Regions from separate parts of the Homo sapiens genome. Here all the other regions are linked to region 3. The links come from fine-mapping of genetic effects on gene expression. A gene starts in region 3. Each other region holds a variant in brackets. All regions are shown on one strand. Distances are from middle to middle. Region 1 overlaps SRPX2 (sushi repeat containing protein X-linked 2). Region 2 has its middle 12 kb from the start of SYTL4. Region 3 holds the start of TSPAN6 (tetraspanin 6).

Evidence for each region.
Region 1: its variant is fine-mapped to the expression of TSPAN6 in transverse colon (GTEx, PIP above 0.99).
Region 2: its variant is fine-mapped to the expression of TSPAN6 in whole blood (TOPMed, PIP above 0.99).

Annotation. Positions count from the first base shown.
Region 1 is chrX:100,654,264-100,662,450 of GRCh38, reverse strand. SRPX2 (sushi repeat containing protein X-linked 2) reads right to left here. Exons shown (of 11, transcript NM_014467.3): 4 at 84-275. Among named protein-coding and RNA genes, the nearest start is that of SRPX2, 14 kb to the right of the region's middle. The variant C/T (reference allele first, on the strand shown) is at 3,153.
Region 2 is chrX:100,740,334-100,748,520 of GRCh38, reverse strand. No RefSeq gene overlaps it. Among named protein-coding and RNA genes, the nearest start is that of SYTL4, 12 kb to the right of the region's middle. The variant T/G (reference allele first, on the strand shown) is at 5,071.
Region 3 is chrX:100,633,228-100,641,414 of GRCh38, reverse strand. It overlaps TSPAN6 (tetraspanin 6), which reads left to right and starts at 4,609. Exons shown (of 8, transcript NM_003270.4): 1 at 4,609-4,807; 2 at 5,669-5,857; 3 at 6,163-6,237; 4 at 7,386-7,484; 5 at 7,876-8,010. The coding sequence starts at 4,721. RefSeq lists enhancers at 4,414-5,029, 5,030-5,645.

The DNA of each region.
Region 1 (8,187 bases), 21 kb before region 3:
CACCTCCGGGCATATACCCTCAGCAGCTGGCTGGCTGGCTTCTCTCGCATACATACATCAGCATATGCACACACACAACTTACGCCTGCAGTAGGCAGTTCCAGACCAACGACGGCTTGGCAGGCATTGCACCGACCTCCTTCCAATCAATCGAAAGCCCCGGTCACAGGAGAGCTCACAACGCGTGCCCAGGCTGCTGTGATAATTTCCTCCCTTCGGTGAGTAGCATGTGGCTTCTCCATCCTGGATATTTAATGTATAACACCATCGGGGGACTGTAGCAATAGAAGAAAGGCAAGCTAGAAGTATAGTAATCAAGACAGTGTGGTGTTGGTGAAAAGACAAATAGGTCAATGGAAAAAAATAGAGAGCCCAGAAGTAAACCCACACAGGTGTGTTGAAATGATTTTTGACAAAAGTGCAAAAACAATTAAGTGGAAGAAAGATAGCCTTCAAACAAACGGTGCTGGAGCACTTGTACTTCCATATGCAAAAAAAAAAAAAAAAAAAAAAAAAACCCCACCTCGACCTAAGTCTCACACCTTATACAAAAATTAACTCAAATGGGATCATGGACTTGAAAAAACAGGAGAAGGTCACTGGGATTTAGGGCTAAGCAAAGTGGTCTGAGGTATGACACCAACAGCAGAATTAATAAAAGAAAAATTAAAATTTGTTTTTTTGAGACGGAGTCTCACTCTCGCCCAGGCTGGAGTGCAGTGGCGTAATCTCAGCTCACTGCAAGCTCCGCCTCCCACGTTCACGCCATTCTCCTGCCTCAGCCTCCTGAGTAGCTGGGACTACAGGCGCCTGCCATCATGCCTGGCTAAGTTTTTGTATTTTAGTAGAGACGAGATTTCACTGTGTTAGCCAGGATGGTCTCGATCTCCTGACCTTGTGATCCTCCTGCCTCGGCCTTCCAAAGTGCTGCGATTACAGGCGTGAGCCACTGCGCCCGGCCAGAAGAATTAAATTTTAATAAATAAATTAATGAATTAACAAATTGGACCTTGTCAAAATTAAAAATTGCTCTGTGAAAAGACAAAGCCATAAAAGGGACTAGTATTTAAAATATAGAAAGAACTCTCAAAACATTGAAAAAGCAAACAATCCAGTTAGAACATGGACAAAAGATATAAGCACACATGGCACTGAATAGGCTACACCGATGGCAAATAAGCACATGAAAAGATGTTCAGCATCATTAATCATTTGGGAAATGCAAGTTAAAATCATAATGAGATACTACTTATATATCCATCAGGGAGGGTATCCTTAAAAAAAACTGGTAATACCAAGTGTTTGTGAAGATGGAGAGAAACTGGAATTCTCATATATGGCTGGTGGAAATGCAAAAATACAGCCACTTTGGAAAATATTTTGGCTATTTCTTATAAAGGTAACACCTACCTTCTTATAAAGAAAGGTACACTTACCATACGACTCTGCAATCCCACTTAAAGGTATTTATGCCAGTGAAATAAAAACCTGTGTCCACACAAAATCCTGTACACGAGAGTTAAAAGTAGCTTTATTCATAATTGCCAAAAGCTGGAAACAACTCAAATCTCAAATGTCTTTCTTTCTTCTCTTTTCTTTTTTTTTTTTTGAGACGGAGTCTCCCTCTGTCACCAGGCTGGAGTGCAGTGGTGCAATCTCGGCTCACGGCAACCTCCACCTCCTGGGTTCAAGCTTGATTCTCCTGCCTCAGCCTCCCGAGTAGCTGGGACTACAGGCGCCTGCCACCACGCCCAGCTAATTTTTGTATTTAATTTTTGTATTTTTAGTAGAGACGGGGTTTCACCTTGTTGGCTAGAATGGTCTCGATCTCTTGACTTCTTAATCTGCTCGCCTTGGCCTCCTAAAGTGCTGGGATCACAGGCATGAGCCACCGCGCCCAGCCTCAAATGTCTTTCTATGGGTGAATGGCTAAACTAACTGTGGTGTATTCATACAAAAGAATGAAGTGCTGATACATGCAACAACATCAATCAATCTCAAATTTATTTTGGGACGTGAAAGAAGCCACACTTGAAAAACTACATACTGTAGAGTTCCATTTATATAACAAAAATATAGGGACATAGGCAAAAATACAGTGACAGAGTACAGATCAGTGTTTGCCAGAGATTAGGGGTAGAGGTAGGGAATAACATCAAAGGGGAAGCACTGGGCAAGATTTTGAAGTGATGGAACTGTCTCATACTGTGGTGGGAGTTATGTGACCCTATGCAGTTGTCAAAACTCACAGAACTGTACACCAAAAAGAGTGAGTTTTTCTGTATGTATGTTTAAAATAAAAATTTAAAGGATAATACAAAAATGTAAACTAGAGAGAGGAAGGGAATGTGACATCAAAGAAGGAAGAAGGCTTCTTAGGAATTAAAGTCCAATCCCAGTTCAGTACTGAGCACAAAAGGTTATAAGGCTGTTAAATCATAAAGGCATCATAAAGATGCCTCACAGGCTATACAAAATAAATGACTCTTTAGTGGGTTCAGAGTTTAAAGGGGCACATATAAACAAGCAGAGGGCCGCCTGCCCAAGGATGCACACACACAGCATGGCACGGGTCTGTTGGCCTAGGGTTGGGAAGGCTAAAGCCCCATGTGAGTTGACTCAGTTCCCACATCCTAAGGGGGAAAAAAAAAAAGCTTTGAAAAAAAAAAAAAAGAAGTAGATGAGACACCAAAGGAACAAAGAAAGGCTAGAGCCTCTTTCTGAGTGCAACTGGAGAATGAAGACAGATGACAGTGAGAAATCTTTTCTTCAGTAAACACTACTCTTGGGGCTTCCAGCATTACTTTTGAGCCTGTGGCAGTGACACATGGCTGCCATCTGGAGACACCATCTCCAAATTACAGAAAGTCTTTTAAGCACTACAGTTGCAGAGCTGTTGATTATAAGGCCACAACACATATCACAAAGACCTTATTTGGCAGGCTGGGACCTCAACAATCACTCCCATTCTATATCGCTCCCATAGTCTGTCAAGGAAAATACACATCAGATTGGAATCGGTAGAATAAGTAAGAATGGTAAAGGGAAATATAAAGGTCGGTCTAAATGCTGAGACAGTAGGAGAGGCCCCAGCTATTGTAAATAAGTTCAAATTTTCCGACCCAGAAAAAATCCTGGCATAAAGACAAAAA[C/T]GTTGAAAGGCTGGAGAAGAGCAAACACAATCTGTTTTCAAATAAGGAAGAAGTCTCTGGGAACTATAGCCTAGTGACACTGACAGCACTGATAGCATAGTGTTCTAGAATATTTAAACATAAGGCGTATGGCAGTTACCCAGAGAAATAGTGATCTCCAGGAACCCTCTGGAACAAGTAATTCCAGACTGACCTAATTTCCTGTTTGGGTAGGGTCACCAGACTGGTAGAGCAGGGGAAATGGTGGATACACTATGTGGAAGTAAGTGAGGCATGTGACAATGCTTTTCATGTCATTGATGTGGATGAGATGTAATACAGGAGAGGTGACAATATGGTTAAAAATTCATAAGTGGCTGAGCAACTGTACCCAAAGAATGCCCATGGGAAACTGAAACGAGGATGTGGTTAAAAGAAATCAAGAAGGCAATTCCATTTACAATAGCTACAAAGAAATCTAGAAATAAACTTAACCAAAGAAGTGAAAACCTTTACACTGAAAACTATAAAACATCGATGAAAGAAATTAAAGAGGACACAAAAATAGATATCCCGTGTTCATGGATCAGAAGAATTAATATTGTTAAAATGACCATATTGCTCAAAGCAATCTACAGATTCAATGCACTTTCTATCAAAATACCAACATCATTTTTCACAGAAATATAAAAAGCAATCCTAAAATTAATGTGGAACTAAAAAAGAGCCAGAATAGCCAAAGCAATCTCAAGCAAAAAGAACAAAGCTAGAGGCATCACATTACCTGACTTCAAAATATATTGTAAGGCTATAGTAACCAAAACAACACAGTATTGGTATAAAAATAGATATATAGATCAATGGAACAGAATAGCAAACCCAGAAATAAATTCACATATTTATAGCCAACTGATCTTTGACAAGGCCATCAAGAACATACACTGGGGAAAGGACACTCTCTTCAATAAATGGTGCTGAGAAAACTAGATAACCTTATACAGAATAATGAAATTGGACACCCATCTCTCATATCCAAAAATTTACTCAAGGTGGAGTAAAAACTTAAATGTAAGACCCAGAAGTATAAAATTACTAGAAGAAAACATAGGGAAAACTCCTCAGGATATTGGTCTAGGCAACAATTTTATGGTTAAGACCTCAAAAGCCAGGAAACAAAAACAACAATAGACCAGGAAGACTATATTAAACTAAAAAGCTCCTGCACAGCAAAACAACAACAAACAACTGAGTGAAGAGACAGCCTCTTGAATGGGAGAAAATATTTGCAAACTACTTATCCATCAGGGGACTAATAATGTCCAGTATATACAAGGAACTCGAACAACTCAACAGTAGAAAAACAAATAATTCCATTAAAATATTGGGCAAAGGGGCTGGGCGCAGTGGCTCACGCCTGTAATCCCAGCACTTTGGGAGGCCAAGGTGGGCGGATTACGAGGTCAGGAGACTCCGTCTCCAAAACAAAAACAAAAAACAAAAACAAAATATTGGGCAAAGGACATGAACAGATATTTCTCAAAAGAGGACACACAAATGGCCAACAGATATGTGAAAATATGCTCAACATCACTAATCATCAGGGAAATGCAAATCAAAACCACACAATGAGATATCATCTCACCCCAGTTAAAATGGCTATTATTAAAAAGGCCAGGCACAGTGGCTCATGCCTGTAATCCCAGGACTTTGGGAGGCCTCCGCAGGCGGATCATTTGAGGTCAGGAGTTTGAGACCAGCCTGGCGAACATGATGAAATCCCGTCTCTACTAAAAATCCAAAAATTAGCTGGGCATGGTGGTGGGCACCTGTAATCCCAGCAACTTGGGAAGCTGAGGCAGAAGGATTGCTTGAACCCAGGAGGTAGAGGTTGCAGTGAGCCGAGATCATGCCATTGCACTCCATCCTGGGGGACAGAGTGAGACTCTGTCTCAAAAAAAAAAAAAAAAAAAGACATAAATAACAGATGCCGGCCAGGATGCAGAGAAAAGGGAACCATACATTGTTGATGAGAATGTAAATTAATATAACCACTATGGAAAACAGTATGGAAATTTCTTAAAAAATGAAAACTAGCCAGGCGTGGTGGCTCACACCTGTAATCCCAGCACTTTGGAAGGTCAAGACAGGTGAATCACCTGAGGTCAGGAGTTCGAGACCAGCCTGGCCAACATGGTGAAACCCCGTCTCTACTAAAAATACAAAAATTAGCTGGGCGTGGTGGCGGGTGCCTGTAATCCCAGCTACTGGGGAGGCTGAGGCAGGAGAATCGCTTGAACCCAGGAGGCAGAGGTTGCAGTGAGCCGAGATGGCGCCACTGCACTCCAGCCTGTGCAACAAGAATGAGGCTCCATCTCGAAGGAAGGAAGGAAGGAAGAAAGGAAGGAGAAGGAAGGAGAAGGAAGGAAAGGAAGGAAGGAAGGGAGGGAGGGAACTAGCACTACCGTATGATTCAGCAGTCCCACTACTGGGTACCTATTTAAAGGAAAAGAAATCAAGATATCAAAGGGATCTGCATTCGTGTGTTTATCACAGCACTATTCACAATAGCAAAGATATGGAATCAACCTAAGTATCCATCAGTGGACTAATGGATAAATAAAATGTGGTACATATACATAATAGAATAGTATTTGGCCATAATAAAGAATGAAATCCTGTCATTTGCAGCAACATGGATGGAACTGGAAGACATTATGTTAAGCAAAATAAGCCAGGCACAAAAAGACAAATACTGCATGTTCTCATTTAATTGTGGGTGCTAAAAAGTTAATCTCATGGACATAGAGAATAGAATGATAGATACGAGAGACTGGGAGGGGTAAGTGGGTGGCAGAGGGGATGAAGAGAGTTTTGTTATGGATACAAATCTATAGTTAGAGGAAATAAATTCTAATGTTTGATAGCAGAATAGGGTGACTATACTTAGCAACAATGTTTTGTATATTTCAAAGTAAGTAGAAGAGAGGACTTGATACCAACACATAAAAATAATAAATACTGAAGGTGATGGATACCGCAAATACCCTGACTTGATTAGTCCACAGTCTATGCGTGTGACACTCAACATGTGCCCCATAAATATGTAAAGTATTATGTACCAATAAAAGAAAAAAGAATGTGGTTAAATACTGTATGGCTGGCTGGGCGTGGTGGCTCACCCCTGTAATCCCAGCACTTTGGGAGGCCGAGGCAGGCGGATCACCTGAGGTCAGGAGTTTGAGACCACCCTGTCCAACATGGTAAAACCGGGTCTACTAAAAATACAAAATTAGCCGGGTGCCGTAGTGTGCGCCTGTAATCCCAGCTACTTGGGAGGCGGAGGCAGGAGAATTGCTTGAACCTGGGAGGCAGAGGTTGAAGTGAGCCAAGATTGTGCCGTTGCACTCCAGCCTGGGCAACAAGAGCGAAACTTTGTCTTAAAAAAAAAAAAAAAAAAAAAAAAACTCCCCCACCCCACCTAAAAAAACCCCAAAAATACTGTATAGCAAAATTGTCTGGTAGGAAGTGTGTAAGTCTTTATTGTGTATCTCCTGTGTTCTAGGCACCATGCTACATGTTTTCCTTTTCACATATATCATCTTATACAGTTCTCCCAACAGCCCTGTAAGGTATGCAGGTGTTTATCCCTCTTTTGCAGATGAGGAAGTAAATTGCCCAGGATCCCTAAGCAAGTAAGGGGTAGAGCTGAAATTTGAACCCAGGCTTTGTCTGCTCCAAACTCCATGTCCTATGTAATTGCAGTGTCTGCCACTGCAGATATAAAATAGGCTACTATTTTGAAGTAAACACTGACCTTGTTGAATAGATAATATATCCGCATGACTCAAAACCTCAAAAGTATAAAAAGTTACAAAGTAAAATGTCTTCCCCCAACCCCTGCTCCCATGCCCACCCCGACTTAGTCCCCTCCCAAATAACTACTTTTAATAGTTTCTTTGTGCCTATAAAGCAAATGTTGGTATAGCTTCTTATTTTTCCTTCCTTTTTAATACATAGAGTAGCATATTATGCCCACTCTTCCCTCCATTGCTTGTTTGGTAAACTTAACAGTGTATTTAGAGATCTTTCCATATCACTACATAGCAAGTGTGCAATTTATTTAAATGAAATAACATTTATAAAATACATAGCACAGTGACTGGCACATAATAGGTGTTTGTCCAGAGTCCAAGAGCTGGAAGGGGGAGAAGCGGAGGTTTGAACTCAGGCCCATTGTCTCCGCTTTCTGTAGCTATTCATCTGTCTATCTCTTTTTAAGGTGTATGCAGAAAATAAAGTGCTGACGAGAGTTTTGAAAGGGCCTTCTCTGTTGTCTTCTATTATCTTCAGATAACCCAGGCAGTGTGACTAGCTTGCTCAGGGATGAGGCAAGCTGCAAGGAAAGCAGCAGCCCCAGCTGACTCCAAGCTAGGAGTTGGGATAAGGGAATGATAGAAAGTGCAAGATGAGTGAAAATGATAGCAAATGACATGCCAATTTGCTCTAAAATAATGATTTGGTTGTTCTTTTTTTTCTGGTCTTCTTTTTTAGAACAATGAGTTAATTTTTGATGAAAGAGATGAATTAAGCATGGCTTTAGAGTCAGACAGATCTGAGTTTAAATTCTCTGTGACTCTCTGAATCTAAAACTTCCCTGAGCTTAGTTTCCTGGTTGGTAAAATGGGGGATAATAAACCGTTCCATAGGGCTGTTGTGAGAACCAAATGAAATTTCATGTGTAAAATATTCAACCCTGTGAATGATTTTCCCTAAGTCAGTGTCTGGGTCTGAGCCAGTGTCCCATCTTTCCTAAAGCAGCAACATGCTGTGGTTCCCAGCATTCGTTTTGAGCATGTGACTGAGACACACTACTGCCATCTGGAGACACCATCTTCAAATTACGGGAAGTCATTTAGCACTACAGTTGCAGACCTATTGATTATAAGGTCACAAAGACTTTACCTGGGAGGCTGGGGCCTCAGGTTGTACTTTTCCTGGCCACTCCCTCCCCCTCATCATTGCTAACTTCACTCAATTCATTTTATGCCCTGAGACT
Region 2 (8,187 bases), 110 kb before region 3:
CTTTCACCTTTTCACTTAAAGCAAATACTTTACAACTTCTCTTTGGCATATCTGAATTGCCAGCATCCCTATTCTTGTGCTTTGGGGCCATTATTAAGCAAAACAAGGGTTCCTTTAACACAAGCACTGTGATACTGCCACTGTTGATCTGATAACCTAGATGGCTCCTAAGTGACTCATGGGCAGGGAGCATATACAGCGTGGATACACTGGACAAAGAGATGATTCATATCCAGGGTGGGACTGAGTGGGACAGCGTGAGATCTTATCATACTACTATGAATGACACAAAACATGAAACTTATGAATTGTTTATTTCTGAAATTTTCCATTTAATATTCTAGGACCACAGTTGACCAGGGATAACTGAAACTGTGGAAAGTAAAACCACAGATAAGGGGGGACTACTGCATATACATAAAATGGAATATTATTCAGCCTTTAAAAAGAGTGGGATTCTACCACTTGTAACACATGGATGAACCTGGAGGACATTATACTAAGTAAAATAGTCTAGACACAGAAAGACAAATACCACATGATACCACTAATGTGGAATCTAAAATGTCAAACTCATAGAGGCAGAGAGTAGAATAGTGGTTGTTGGGGGCTAGGGAGAGGAGGAAATGGGAAGGTATTAGGAAATGGGAAGGCTTTAGTTACGCAAGATGAATAAGTCCGAGACATTTCCTGTACAGCATGGTGCCTACAGTTAACAATACTGTATTATATACTTAAAAATTTGCTAAGAGAGTAGATTTTATGTTGTGTTCTTATAAAAAATAATAAATGAAGAGAGCAGGAGGGAACTTTTGGAGATGATGGATGTGTTTATGACATAGATTGTGGTTATTTTTTCAGGTGTGTATACTTTTCTCCAAACTCTTCAAGTTGTAGACATTAAATATGTATAATTTTTTATGTCAATTATTCCTCAATAAAGTGGTTTTTCAAATAAAAGGAGTAGACTGCTAGATGGTCTTTATCTCCTACCTTCATCCAGTTTTTACTCTTCCTAGTCCCTCCTTATGTCTTAGGAGGTTTACTCCTATGGACTGCATATTCTTGGTTCCCTTGCCTTGGCTTGCATTGGGTTTGGTAAAGGGTTAAAAATAATAGGAGATCAGAGAGTGAAGGAGCGAGGCGTCAGGGATATTTCTTCCCTACACTCTCTGCTGTGCACTGCATCCCTGGCAGTAGCTGCATTCTTAAACAACTAGAGCACCCACTGGCCAACTCCTCCTCCATAGACTCAGCACTTGCTGGCCTCTGGTAACTGTTTCTTCGCTTATCCCTTGGCTGTAGGGGTGGTAACAGTTTCCCACTCAAACCTCACTATCCCTTGTTTCTTCTGTAACAAGGTCTATAACCCTGACCACTTCCTATAAATGGTTTTTCACAAATTCTCTTCATTTGAGCCATTTGGAGTGAATTATTTTTCTGCTGAGGCCGCACTGATAACATGTGTTCATATCTTCATCCTTTGCCTTATCTCCATGATTTTAAAGAAAAATAATGCTGGAAGTGAAACTCCCCACTTGGGTGTTTTTCTGTACACTTTCAGGGCTGTTCTACAGTGCTTGGAGATAGAGCACTAGGGAAATACAAATGATTCATCTGCGAAGCTTACCTTTTTAAAAGAAGAAAATTGAAAAACCTACACAAATAATACATGATCAAAACAGAAAATTTAGGAAACCACAAAGAGGAAAACAAAAATTTTCAGTAATCCCACTCCACAGAAATAATCACTGTTAACATTTTGACGGACATCTTTTTTAAACTATGCATATTGAACTTGTATGCTTCTTTTAAAAACACACAGTTGCTGAGGCAGTGCCAGCTTGAATTCTTGGGCTTTTGGAATTACCATAACTGCCCCATCTGTGGTAGTGTGGACAAAGCAGGAGCAATTGAAGAAAAGAGAAACACCGTGGAGGAGGAAACAGACCTGGGGAGGTTTCACAGATCAGTCCCTTTCTGGACTGTCATAATTGATGCACTGGATGGACCTCACCCACACAAAGTCCTGCTACACTGGGTTGGGCTTGTGTGCTCTTTGGGAGGGGCGCCTTCTACAGTTCTCACACTCAGAGGAATCTATGCCAGAAGCATGAATAAATAAGTCACAGTTGCACAGCTGGCTGCCCTGCACAAATCTCCTTTAGAATACATGGAAACCTCTAGAGCCTGAGGCAGTCCAGAGAGAGAAGTAAAGAACTAATTAATTCTCCACCAGCCCTGAAAAGGTTAATCCCAAATTGACTGTGAAATACAAATGTGTCCCCACAGGGCAGAATCTAATCTTATTTTGGGTAATAACTTCAATCCTCTGAATTCGAGCTTATTTGCTAGATGCCAAGGTCATTTTGTTTTCCTTCAGAATCCGAAGAGCCAAAAATCCCTGTTATTTGATTCCTGTGTCTCCTCAAAAGAAATGACACTATTATGTACGCGTAGAACATCTTGTTCTCTGTATTTGCTTTTCCACTGCCCGGTGTTATGCTGACCCCAAATAACCAACTCTTTTGTCATGATGTTTATAAATTAGGCTGGGAAAATAGCCTCCAGAGAGAAGGAATTTGTACAGGCAGAGACATACAGAGTGGAGGCTACTCTATGCTGGCTGATTTGGTGTCAACACATAGTCTTTCTTCCTAGAGGCCTCCCGTATTATTATTTACTTCACTACTTCACAGCAACTGAAACATCAACTGTCTACCATTTCCCCTTTCTGGACAGTTAGCAGTAGCAACAGAAGGATGGAATTTGGACACTATTCTTCTTGCTCGTTCTTTCTATTATTTTTCAAGCCCATGGTTTTCACTTTTAAAACATCCTGTTTGGGAGTCTGCTTTTTTGAAGATCTAACAAAAGAGATAACAATGTGAAAAATTTGTCAAAGAACAATCATAGGACTTGGAGCACAGAGGAACCCAATCTTCTTATTTTTTTAAAGAAAATACTAATTTTCACTTTAACTCTGCTTGTCAAATACTTTTCTTTTGGAAATCTTGTTGTACCTTTTCAGTTCATGCTGAGGTGAGGTAGTTGTACATTTACTGAGCTTCAAATAGAAAGGTATCTGGGCAGGGTGAACTCTCAATAAACTTGTTTGTTTGCTTAAAATGAGTGCCAGGACTCGACAAATTTGCAGAAGCTCCCTAGTAACTGCCTTCACATCTTACTGCAGTTTATTTGTGTCAAGCCTCATTCTTACATACCTTTGGATACACAGTAAGAACAATTTTAAGATTGTCAAGTAAGAGTGCAAGAAGAATAATAAAGAAAATTTTAGGAAAAGGAAGCAGGGATTAAACCCAGATGAAGCGATTTGCAGATAGCTCCTCCTTGTAAGTCTGAAGAGAGAAATTTTGAGCTGCATTATGAAAAATGGAATGGCAACAGCAAGGTAGTGGAGATGTGACTTCAAGATCCTTGAAGATGAAGCTTGTGATATTAGAGTAGATACAAGCATAGTGGGTGGAAAGGCTATTAATGCAAATTATAGCGTGCAATGTTCTGCTTATACGCTGCCTCAGCCCAAACTGCCCTTTGCATTGAGGCAGCTGTTGACAATTGTGTAATTGAGGCATTATAAGATATGTACACTCCTATTACAATGACCACCATTCCTGTGAAGCATTATGAATGGTGCTAGAGCAGTGTTTGATGGTATTCCTAATAACAACAGAAAAGTTGCACAGTCCATGTTTTTCTCTGAATCTGGCTAATGCAATAGTTACTCCTTGTAAGGGAAAAATAGTTTAGTAGTGCTGTAACTGGTTACAGTAGAAGAATTCCTGTGATTGTCTTCTGGAGCATTGAGACCATGTCCCACTTCACAGAATGGGGGAAAAGGATTATTGAGAAGCAGCCCAAAAGGATAGAGGGGGTGGCAGTACTTTCGGAAAGAGAAAAGAAGACTGAATCCTAGGGACCTTTGGCTAGGGAGTCTTGGCCTGAAAAGGGACCCTGAAGTTGCATATTAGAAAGGCCTATATGTGGCTGGGCGCGGTGGTTCACGCCTGTAATCCCAGCACTTTGGGAGGCCGAGGCAGGTGGATCACGAGGTCAGGAATTCGAGACCAGCCTGGCCAACATGGTGAAACCCCATCTCTATGAAAAATACAAAAATTAGCCGGGCTTGGTGGCTAGCGCCTGTAATCTCAGCTATTCGGGAGGCTGAGGCAGGTGAATTGCTTGAACCCGGGAGGAGGAGTTTTCAGTGAGCCGAGATCGCGCCACTGCACTCTAGCTTGGGTGACAGAGTGAGACTCCATCTCAAAAAAAAAAAGGCCTATATGTTGGATATATCATATTTATCATAGTATATTATTATCATAATGAAATATAATTTTGCAAATGAGAAACCAAGGAATAGTGAGATAACTGCCACAGTCATTTAAAAAAAAAAATTGAACAAGTTCACATCTTCTGATTCCCAGCCCAGGCAAGATCCTATTGAACTACAGTGCCCCTAGATGGAAATATACCAAAGGCAGATGCGTCCTACTCAAGTGAGGAGACTCAAACAGAGGGTTAACTGGACTTGGAGTGAATGCCAAACTGCTTTTTTTTTTTTAAGTTTGACAGCACAAACAAAATGTTGCAAGCATTAGAAAACATTTTAATTTTTTTGTGCCTTGAACACTGAATCATCCTTGTGTGGTATAATAGGAAGACATTGGATTTAAGCCCCTGTTTCTTCATTTAACATTAATGTGTTACCTAACTTATCTGAGCCACAGTTTTCTCATCTGTAAAGTGGAGATAATAATAGTGCCTAATTTATAGTGCTAATGTGATGATTAAAAGAGATGATACATTATAGAAATAGCTCAACAAATAATTATTTTCCTCTCTTTTTCCACTTGTATAGGAGTTTGTCTAATGTGCTTAGCTTGAGTCAAAAAAGTGGCTTTAAAGTGTTCTCTGAATTTAAAGCCCCATCTTACAAATGGCCCATCTCTCTGTAAGTGAATGTTTTCCCAAATATGGGTTTTAGCATGTGTGCAAATGTGTTTTGCTCATCAGCAAGACCAAATGAAACCCCAGCCCACAAGAATT[T/G]TATCTTTATGACTCCTTTTTCCTCTTGTCATTATCTTGGACTCCAGAATGCAGGACTGAATTTCACAGAAAACGCTGTAATTCAGCACAAGAGAAACAAGGCTGAAAAGTGCACCACAGCTAAGGGGCAAGGTTTCTTAGCCTCAGAACTACTGAGCTTGGGGCTGGACACTTCTTTGTTGTGGGAAGCTGTCCTGTGCATTATAAGATGTTTAATAGCATCCTGGGCCTCCACCCACTAGATGCCAGTAGCACTTCTCTTTTTGGTTGTGACAACCAAAAATGTCCCCTGGGCAGGGGGAAGCAATATTGTTTTTGGTTGAGAATAAACCCTAGGAGAAATAAATCCGCTAGTTGTTTGGCATACAAACACCCTATGGGGTAGATAAATTGAATCTGTAGGAGTGACTAGGAATTCAAAGTGCAAGGGGGAGTGAAGGAAAGAAGAGTCTGGGCAGAAGAACAGTTTGGATTTTAAAAGGGAACCTATTTCATATGCAGGCCTTATGAATACAGAGGTTAATAAGACATAGATCTTGATCTCGAAGAGCTCATGTTTTAGTGGTAAAGGCAACCACTTGAAAAGACAATGCAAATACTGTGTAGTGAGTACTATGTCAGAAATTTTTATAAAGAGTGTTATGGAACAATGGGAGCATAGGGGAGGTACACCCACACTAGCAAGGTACAGGAGAGGCTTTCCAGAAGAGATCATATCTGAGTCAAAGGATAAGTAAGGCTTAGCCTGGAGAAGATAAAAGGAGGATGGAAGAGCCATGAGAGAACTTGGTGTTTGGAGGAAAATAAAAATCATTTAGGTTGCCTAGAAACAGAATGGTCAAGACAAAGAATGGTAAAATAGAAGCTTGTAAGGCAGACAGGGAGCAGATCATGAAAGTCTTTCAAAGCCATGTATAAGACTCAGTTTTGAGAACCACCGAGAGCCATTGAGTTTCTCCATGATCCTATTTATTTGGATTTGGGGAAGACTACTTTGGCAGTGGTGTGGAAAATAGACTGGAATTAGGGTAACAAGTCAGGAGGCTGTTTGTGTAGTTCAGGAGAGAGATGATTATGGCCTGAGTTAAGGCAGTGACGGTAGGAAGGAATTTAAAATCTACTTAGGTGATGAGAACAACAGGATCTAGGGACTAGTTAGGTGTGGGGACGGTTTCTGTTTTGTGCTACTAAGTAGATGGTAGTGCTATTCACTGGGATAGAAAACACTGGGGACAGAAAAGATTTGTAAGGAAGATGAAGTTTAAGTTTGGAAAAGTTGAATTTGAGGTGGTTGTGATCATTAAGGTGGGGATGGCTGGTAGCCATTAAACATACGAGTCTGAAAATCAGGAGAAAATGTAGGGTAGAGATACAAGATTGAGAGTCAACAGGGGGAAATTGAAGTCATTGGGATAGTTACCCTACTTCCAATCTATTTTCCATACCACTGCCAAAGTAGTCTTCCCCAAATCCAAATCGGATCACGGAGAAACTCAGTGGCTCTCGGTGGTTCTCAAAATTGAGTCTTATACATACATGACTTAGAAAGACTTTCATGATCTGCTCCCTGTCTATCTTACAAGCTTCTATTCTAAGATCATCCAAGGAGAATGAATATACTGAAGAGAGATGAGGACCAAAGACATTCCCATGGCTTGCTTCTGTACTTTGTTAGTGTCACCTCTTTTGAGAGGCTTTGCTTGACTAACATATATAAAATATTACTCTATTCCTTTGATTTTTTGGGTAACGTTTCACTATCCCATATTATGTTATATATTTAACCCACTCGCTTTTTGGTTACTCTCAGATATTTACAATAGTTTAATTTGTAGGCACTTAAAAGTTCAGTCAAATCAAAACTTCCATCTCACATCCAGTTTAAAACTTCTCCTCCAGTCCCCAACCTCCAGTGCAGCTTGACTGGCAATCCCACAGATCTCTAGTGAGAAAAGTGACTTGGTCTGTTCTTTTATTCTTCTTGCTCTACCTCCTCCCCTACTTGTTCTACTGCTTCTGTCTCCTCCAGGGCTTAGGGGTGGGGTGGGTATGGAGAGGGGAATCTTAAAGGGACAGTGAGAAGCTGAATTGACTGGTGCTGGTGTAATCTGGCTATGAATATCCTCTGTGACATAGATGCCCAAATACTGCCTTTTCTTGTAGTGTTCCTTCTTGGTTTATTCAGGGACCTTCTAACTCCTCTTCCTGCTAGCAGGGATCTCTTCCCTACACTATTCCCTGATAGGAACAATGTACCATCTGACCCTCTTCCCCCTTGGCTGTTGCCCCCACAACTTTCTATTCATGGGATCCTCATTTTTATGCGGAGTTGCCAGCTATGCTCAAAAGAAACTACCTGGTCCACAGCAAACATGGTCCCTTGGAAGTCTAGATCTCTTTCTTTGCTCTGCCATTATGAGCAATTTAAACCAGGCTTCTGCCTTCAGATTTTAGGTAAAAGTCAAGTATAAGTTTCTATCTTTTCATAGCACTAGAGGACATATGCGAGGTTCTCTCATGAACTCATCCTGTTTCAGTAGCAACAAAGGCTAAAGTTTCTGTAGTGCAGCAAGCCTCCAGCCTGGGAGTGAGATGTCAGTCTCTCTTCAAAAGGTTTACTTAAGATCTTTTTTGTTTCGCTCGAGCAGGGGAACCATAGTGCTTTCTACTCCAATGAGTTCCCTTCAAAAAATCCTCTTTGTTGCTTCAATTAATCTCTAGAATTATCTTATAATAATTCTGGAGTTGAGTGGTGGGGATTAGTAATTGAAATACCAGTTTGGTTACCTCTTAGCAAGTCCTGTGGGAATCTGTCTAACATCCCTCTTTAGAATGTATGACTACCCCTAGTATGTATGTCTTTAACTTTGAAGCCTCAGTCAAAACTTTGGGAAACAACAGAAAAAGTCCCATTTGACATCCTTTTCCAAATATATGTAGCAATATACACATAACCCCATATACTTACAAATATATATCTTGTGTGTATATGTATTATATACACACACACATGAATATGATATATTTATTTATTTATTGCTGAGAGACAACACAGAGTACTAGTTAAGACTATGGAATCTGAAGCCACACTGTCTGGCTTCAAATACTGAGTTTACC
Region 3 (8,187 bases):
AGCACATACTCAGTGTGTAAAACACAACGTTAGATACTGTGAGGCTACAAAGTAAAATAAAACACCTCTCTTTATGGTTTGGTTGGGAGGATAAGACAAAGGTGGATAAGGAGACTGACAGCATCCAGGCATACTCAATTTCTTAAGTTTCTTAAAGTTCAGTACCATTTTCAACTTTAAGACTTTTAATATGAAGCCCCTCAGCAGTAAATAAGGTATTGTTTTACGAAATATTAGATATGGAAACTGACTTCCCTAGTTGAGATCTCAGGAAAGCTCAACAAGGCTAGACTAGAAACAACTTTCTTAGAAAATGGACATAGAATTGTCAATTTTAATACCATTTAAAAGTATTTATGGCTGGGCGCGGAGGCTCACGCCTGTAATCCCAGCACTTTGGGAGGCCGAGGCAGGCGAATCACAAGGTCAGGAGATCGAGACCATCCTGTCTAACACGGTGAAACCCCGTCTCTACTAAAAATACAAAAAATTAGCCGGGCGTGGTATCGGGCACCTGTAGTCCCAGCTACTCGGGAAGCTGAGACCAGAGAATGGCATGAACCCGGGAGGTGGAGCTTGCAGTGAGCCGAGATGGCACCACTGCACTCCAGCCTGGGCGACAGAGCGAGACTCCGTCTCAAAAAAAAAAAAAGTATTTATCATGTCTATGTGTCCCAAACTGTATATTATGAGCTTTTTTGAAGAAGGCAAGATCAGGGATGGAAAGGGAGGAAAGGTTTCACAGAGCATCTGAAAGGAGTGGATGGAAAACAAGGGCATAAAAATAGACAAAGAATAGAATTTCAGAGAAGGAGAATGGGAATGCACAAGAGACAATAGAAATAAAGAGATATTCCATTAACGAAATGGATTTTTAAAACTGTACATATGAATTAACTGTTTAAATAATGAGGTATCTGATGGCTGTAACATAAAATATGAGATATTAAGAAAATAAGTAGGATGCGCCTTTAAATTCTATGATAGGCACTTAGCCAAAGGTAATTGAAGGGATGCTAGAAAAGGGATTAGAAAATGAAAATGGTAAAGTTATTATGTGAATAAGAGATAAGATGTACACTCAGCGATACAGTTTATTATTATTATTATTGTTGTTGTTATTATTTTAGTGGTTCCTGAGAGAGAGAGGAATGTCCCAAGACATTATCTAGGTACTCAATTTAATTTTTTCTGTTTTATTATAGTGTGATACTGGGATGGCTTAGACATTTAATTTTTTATTTAATTTCAACAATCAATCCTGAGTAATTACTATGTGGTTGCTCCCAGAGACCAGTTATGACCTCAATGAGCAATCAGCTCAACAGGGATTGGCCGAGCAGAAAATGAACTCATCAATTGGGCATTATGTCCTAGGGTACTGAGGAGAGTATAAAAGGGGGCATAGGGGCCCTGCCACACTAGCTCTTCAGTAGTTTCTGAACATCTAGACGGTAGGATGTAGAATAGGTAAGTAGAAATGCAAAGCAGATATTGCAGTAATTGACTAAAGGGCTGGGTTAATGGGAGTGAGTGTGTAGTTAAGACAGTTATGGTGTTAGAGAAAGAGGTGAGGAAGGAGGGACTTTTTACTGAGTTGGGATTGAACTGGATATTCAGTAGAAGCAGAAAGTATGAGTGAAGTTGAGGGTGGGCAGGGACTAGGGAATAGGACTTGTTTAATTGGGGGGTTGATCATACTGACCTGGTACAGAGCAGAAAATTCACATTGGAAAAGCAGTAGGAAATCAGTTGAGATTGTATTGGGATGAGGGGCTTGGTAGGGATGGAGGGAGGCTGGAGGTGGCACAAGGGAGGTCTGACTTAACAGTGAGCCCTTGTTTATGTCATTTCCCTTGCCTGATGTCTAGCAATGAAAAACATTTACACCTAATCTTGAAGGTTACAGGAAATTAATTGGGAAGGGGGGCTACTAAATGTTCCATGTAAAACAAGCAGTAACAATACTTAAAGTATTTTCCTTTTTTCCTACATTGTTGGCATCAAATTGTGTTTCTGTGCTCAGAAAGAGGGAGAAATTAAGAGGTTGAACAAGAAAAAGTACTGAACTCTCTGCCTTACCACTCTGGGGCAGGTAGGGTTACTTCCTAGGTGGCTGGGCTATTGGAGTGAAGGCAAAAGCCAAACTCAACCAAAAAACCCCAAGTGCAAGGCAGAATTGGGGCAATCATTGAGGTTCTTAAGCTTCAGAGGCTCCGAGGAGTCCTTGTTTTAGGTTAAATGTCTGTGCAACAGCAGTCTTTACTCAGGTTACTCTGCGCAGAGGCAGCTGTACGTACAACAGCAGCTATGTTTCATCACAAAGTGGGCCCCATTTCTGATGAAAGACACAGAAGTTGCCCAGGTTTAGTCCTAGGCAGCTTACTTGGTCTCTTTCAACCTGTTTCTTCATCTGTAAAATGAAGGTGCTAGGTGTGTCAACCTCATAATAGGGTTCTTGTGATGTGTGCATACGAGGTAATGTGTATCAAGCTCTTAGCAATAGTGGTTGGTATACAGTCAATACTTATTATCACAGTCATTATTAATACTTTAAAGAATACATTTATCTAGTGGCCTAGGGAAATACTTCTTAAATTGCCTTAAACGGGATTAGATGCCCCTTTGGTCTGGGTTTGTACCCAAACCCAGGCCTAGGTTTGAACTAAATTGAATTTCTCGGTTTGGTGGCATTGTGGGGGTGGGGAGATGGAAGTGGGTGTAGCAGAGTAGGAGGCAATGGTGCAAGGTGTTGTAGCCATAGGAATATGAATTTCCATGTCAGCATTTGGTTTAATTTGGCACCGAGTGTTATTCAAACAAAGCAGCGTTGTGAGTGGTAGAGGAAGGGAGAGGAGGAAAGTCAACACATTCTTGGAAATAAGATGTGGCTTTTGCTTTGCTATTTTGTTTTTTCTTCAGCTACAGACATATTTCTTTGCTCTTGGGCTCACACTGTAAATCCCTTTCAGTACATATCTAAGTTTCAGAGAAACTTCTCTTTAAGATGACAAGAAGTTATCAAGACTTCCCTTGATCCTTGTTTTTAGTATAAGAACCCTTCAGTTGGGGTCATTTAGCCTAGGGAGAAATCTTTGCATATACTTAGACACCCCCCTCCACCATGTTGAATATTTGGTATTTCCTAACGACTTTACCTCAAAGTGTTTGAAGGTGTATGTAGATGTATCGTTTATCCATTCTCTCCATGTATTTGTGTATTAGGCCTTTCAAATTTTAGTAAAAATTTTAGTATAAAGCCTGGCAATGCAATAATTAATTTTCCAACAGTTGCTGCCTTGCACCTCAGACGTCTGGCAAGATGTTATAGGAACTGGTCCTAGGTCAATATTCGAAGCACAGGGAAGCTCTGTGTGACCAAGTCAATGGAACTTTCCTGTGTTCTGGTCCTGAGGTGTATGTTTAAAGCAACGTTTCAAGCAGAAAAGTTTGAGTATTCATCTCTCCTCCACAAATGCAGGTCTTTTTGCAATGGCAATAGAGTAAATAGCCACTTGTGATATTAAGCTTGTGTCAATGATGAAGGGTTGGATTGCATAGGGAACTGATACAGCCTTCTAACCCCGTTCCTCTAGAGATAACACAAACTCACTTAACACTCAGTCTCTGCCTTCAAAGAGCTGACGCTTTAGTTGAGAAATCAGACCTTAACGCACCTCCTGTGTTGTAACAACATAGACCAATATATTCACAATATATAACATTAGGTTTTAATCTCTCTGTAATCAGCTGGGTTTTGATGGGAAAAACCAGGTGGCTGGAATGTACAGTGCCTTTCTGTTTTAACATTTAAGAGGAGGTCACACTCACCAGGGATTTTTCCATTGCACTCTCTCTTTTTAAAAGTTTACAGCGAATAGCTGAACTTACATTTCACTATTATGTAAAAATACTTTCCCTCAACTTTCCAATTACTTAGGGGATAAAAAAGGAGAGGAATACTGGGGTTTTGCAAAGTCCTGCAGGTAAATTCTAAAGTCATTATTATCTTTAATACCTAGCTTAGAAATTCTTTCAACAAGTGGTGATTATTTTCCTCCATTCACATCTCCCCTTCCTAACCCATAAAACAATGTTCACAAATTGAAAAGCACACAAGTGAGAAAAAAATCAGCCTAATTCCACCAGAGGTAAATTTCACTGTTCCTTTCAGTTTTTGTCTAAGCACACGTGACTGTATGTATTGCTTTGCAATCCGCTTTCTTTTTGCAAATATATTTCTTGTGGGTATTTTCCCATGTATTTTCTTAGGTCGCTTTTAACCTCTTCATTCTTTTCCTTCTCTCTAGGGCACCAGGGGCCAGGGAGGCCCAATCTCAGAGCGCTGCGGGCTCTGCTGGTGATAGAAACAATATGGTGAAGTTATAAGGAGAGGGGAGGGGTGGGGGGCGGGAAAGATTCCTTAGGATAGAAAAAAAACAATGAAGAAAGCTCCACTTGAAGACCTATGAAATTTCCGACACTAGAACCTTTGTATATAGTTTTCGGTAACCTTCGGCAGGGGGCGCTCTGAAATTGTTGCCACTTTCCGGACAGCCTCCCATACTTTACCCTCTACAAAATTGTACAGTGTTTCCGGCCCTTCTCAGTTGTGGACGCTCGTAAGTTTTCGGCAGTTTCCGGGGAGACTCGGGGACTCCGCGTCTCGCTCTCTGTGTTCCAATCGCCCGGTGCGGTGGTGCAGGGTCTCGGGCTAGTCATGGCGTCCCCGTCTCGGAGACTGCAGACTAAACCAGTCATTACTTGTTTCAAGAGCGTTCTGCTAATCTACACTTTTATTTTCTGGGTGAGAGACGAAGGCGCCTGGGGCCGGCAGGGGATCCCGGGCTTTTAGTTGTGGGGGGTGTGACCCTGAGCGGCGGGAGCTCAGGTCGGGAACGGTGTGGGGTTTGGGCGGCCATCGCGCCTGGGACCCCGACGCCGGCGACCAGTGACTGGGCCCCGAACAAAGAGCTCAGGCATCTCGCCGGCGCTGGGGTCGGAGTGCGGGACGAAGGCAGCCGAGAGGCTGAGCTGGGACCCAGACGTACCAGCGTTCGAGTTCGATACGGGAGGCGAGGTGGGGCCTTAAGCCCCCAGAGCACGCAGACGGTGACCCTGGACCTTTGCAAAGGCAAGCAAGGCTTGCCCGGCCCCTTTGAGGGCTCACTTGCATAATAGTGTCTTTCTTTTCACTGCTTCGTAAGAGAGGAGTGTTTCGCAGGTAAGTATGGTATGCCTCCACTCCCGCCAGTCTATCCTTGGGCTTGCTTTTGTGTACCAGTCCTTTGTACCCTGTGCCCATCCCTACCTGGAGAGGACGGGGGAAGTTTCTGGAACTCATAAAATCACGTTTTTTTTTTCCCCTTCAAGGTTTTCTTCCTAAGGTTGGAGTAAGATAGTTAAGGAAGTTTTGATCCCTAGGGCAAATATGCCATGGGCTTGTGTTTACACACAAAAAGATGAATTTTAAGAATTTTGATAAGATACCTGGTCCACAGCCTGCTCTTGTGTGCAGATCCCCCCCTAACCCCTTCTACTCTTCCCCCTTGTCTGCCGTATCCCAGCATATTACACCTATTGTGCCTTAAATACCTCATGCGTTGTGATTTGAAGATGCTGCTGTACACAGTGCGTAACTGTTTGTATTCTCTGAATTCCCACATAGATCACTGGCGTTATCCTTCTTGCAGTTGGCATTTGGGGCAAGGTGAGCCTGGAGAATTACTTTTCTCTTTTAAATGAGAAGGCCACCAATGTCCCCTTCGTGCTCATTGCTACTGGTACCGTCATTATTCTTTTGGGCACCTTTGGTTGTTTTGCTACCTGCCGAGCTTCTGCATGGATGCTAAAACTGGTGAGTCCTTGTTTTCATTAGAATTGATTCTTGGTTTTAGAAAAGTTTTGTATGTTATAGAATTCCTTTGTTGGAACTGGCCATGGCCCTTTACAATTTTTCCTGTTCCTTATGGAAACTTATCAAGTAACAGTTCAGCTGCCAGTTTCCACTTTCAAAATAGACATGTTGTTATTTTCCCTGCCCTTTTCAATGAAAACATGATGAACTAATTGAGAAGACGACCATTATTTTTTCTTTGACTCCCTTTGCAGTTGTGCTATATCTTATTTATGCTGACTTGGACTTTCTTTCTTATCCTGCAGTATGCAATGTTTCTGACTCTCGTTTTTTTGGTCGAACTGGTCGCTGCCATCGTAGGATTTGTTTTCAGACATGAGGTAAGCCTGAATTAGGGAAGCTTAGCATGTTACATTTATCCTCTGAGAGATAAAAATGGATTTATTAAAGTAGAAGAGTCAGACCTCTGTATTTAAACCTGTAGCTGACAATAATGGCCTTCTTGTAAAAATTCTGGTCCACTTCTAATTTAAAAGAAAATTTAGAAAATTGTAAAGACTGATAGTCACCAGAAGAAAATTACTTACTTATATTCCCTGTCGTTTTTCTGTGTATAAATACCTATTAAAACGGAGATAGTACAATTTATAACTTTGCTGATAGGAAAATATTCAAAGCACAAAATTGATAACCTTCTTATGCCTTGCATTTTGAAAAGATTGGATATACTTAATGCAAATCATCAGAAGTTTAATATTGGGCCGGGCGCGTTGGCTCACGCCTGTAATCCCAGCACTTTGGGAGGCCGAGGCAGGTGGATCACGAGGTCAGGGGATCGAGACCACCCTGGCTAACACGGTGAAACTGTCTCTACTAAAAATACAAAAAAAAACAAAAAATTAGCCGGGCGTGGTGGTAGGTGCCTGTAGTCCCAGCTGCTCGGGAGGCTGAGGCAGGAGAATGGCATGAACCCGGGAGATGGAGCTTGCAGTGAGCCGAGATCGCGCCACTGCACTGCAGCCTGGGCAGCAGAGCGAGACTCCATCTCAAAAAAAAAAAGCTTAATACTGAATTAGAAAACAGGTAAACTTGGGGTTGTTCAAATAACATTCGGTGAGTAGCAAAGGCTCATTAATGAGAGTTCTCATAAAGTGGTAGCACAGCCTCCCAAAGTAAGGTTTTGTAGCTTACAAATTCCATAGGCATCGAATTTGAACTCAGTTTAAAGTGGAGAAAAATTAGCAGGGTGCAGAATACAGCAATACTGCATTGCCACTCAGATAAATACATATTCCCACAGCACTTTGAACTTGTAGTGGTTCTCATCATATATTTTAATGTTTTGCTTAGTAGTCCCCTCAGCTAACCTATACCCCTTAGAGGACAGGACTGTACCATGGAAGTTAATTACTATACATGTTGCTGCTGTCAAAGATATGACCATTGGTCAGATTCGAGAACTTATTTGACCTGAAACCAAAAACTTTCTAGAGGATTTTCTTACTGACATTGTGTTTCTTTGCTATAGATTAAGAACAGCTTTAAGAATAATTATGAGAAGGCTTTGAAGCAGTATAACTCTACAGGAGATTATAGAAGCCATGCAGTAGACAAGATCCAAAATACGGTAAGTGGTAACCACCACCTAGAGGGGAACACATTCCCTGTTGCCTCAGAGAAAAGAGCAGAGTCTGGCTACTAGATGTTATCCACCTGTAGGGGAAAGAAGTGTGACGTGTTTCATTTTCCTCACATGTGCACCTGTTCTCTTCCTTCCCCACTTACATCATAGTCCAGGTACAGTTAGTACCAACTATAGCAGGAAAGTAAGGCCAATACAAAACTGTCATGCATGGTGCTAATCAGGGACCCAGTGCTCATCTCTTGAATCAATTGAGGAGAGAGATCATTGAGATTAGTAAATGTTTTGAGCACAAATTGCAATAGAGGATATTAGGTTAAATGTTTGACTACAAAGTTGTAATATAAACTGTAAATGCTTTTGTTGGGTTTTTCAGTTGCATTGTTGTGGTGTCACCGATTATAGAGATTGGACAGATACTAATTATTACTCAGAAAAAGGATTTCCTAAGAGTTGCTGTAAACTTGAAGATTGTACTCCACAGAGAGATGCAGACAAAGTAAACAATGAAGTAAGGTGCCTTTTAAAATTTTCTATTTGGCAATATTTGAAGACTTAACTGAATGCAAAATTGACCCAGTTTTTAATTTTTTTTTTGAGATAGAGTCTTGCTCTGTCGCCCAGGCTGGAGTGCAGTGGCGCGTTCTCGGCTCACTGCAAGCTCCGCCTTCCAGGTTCACGCCATTCT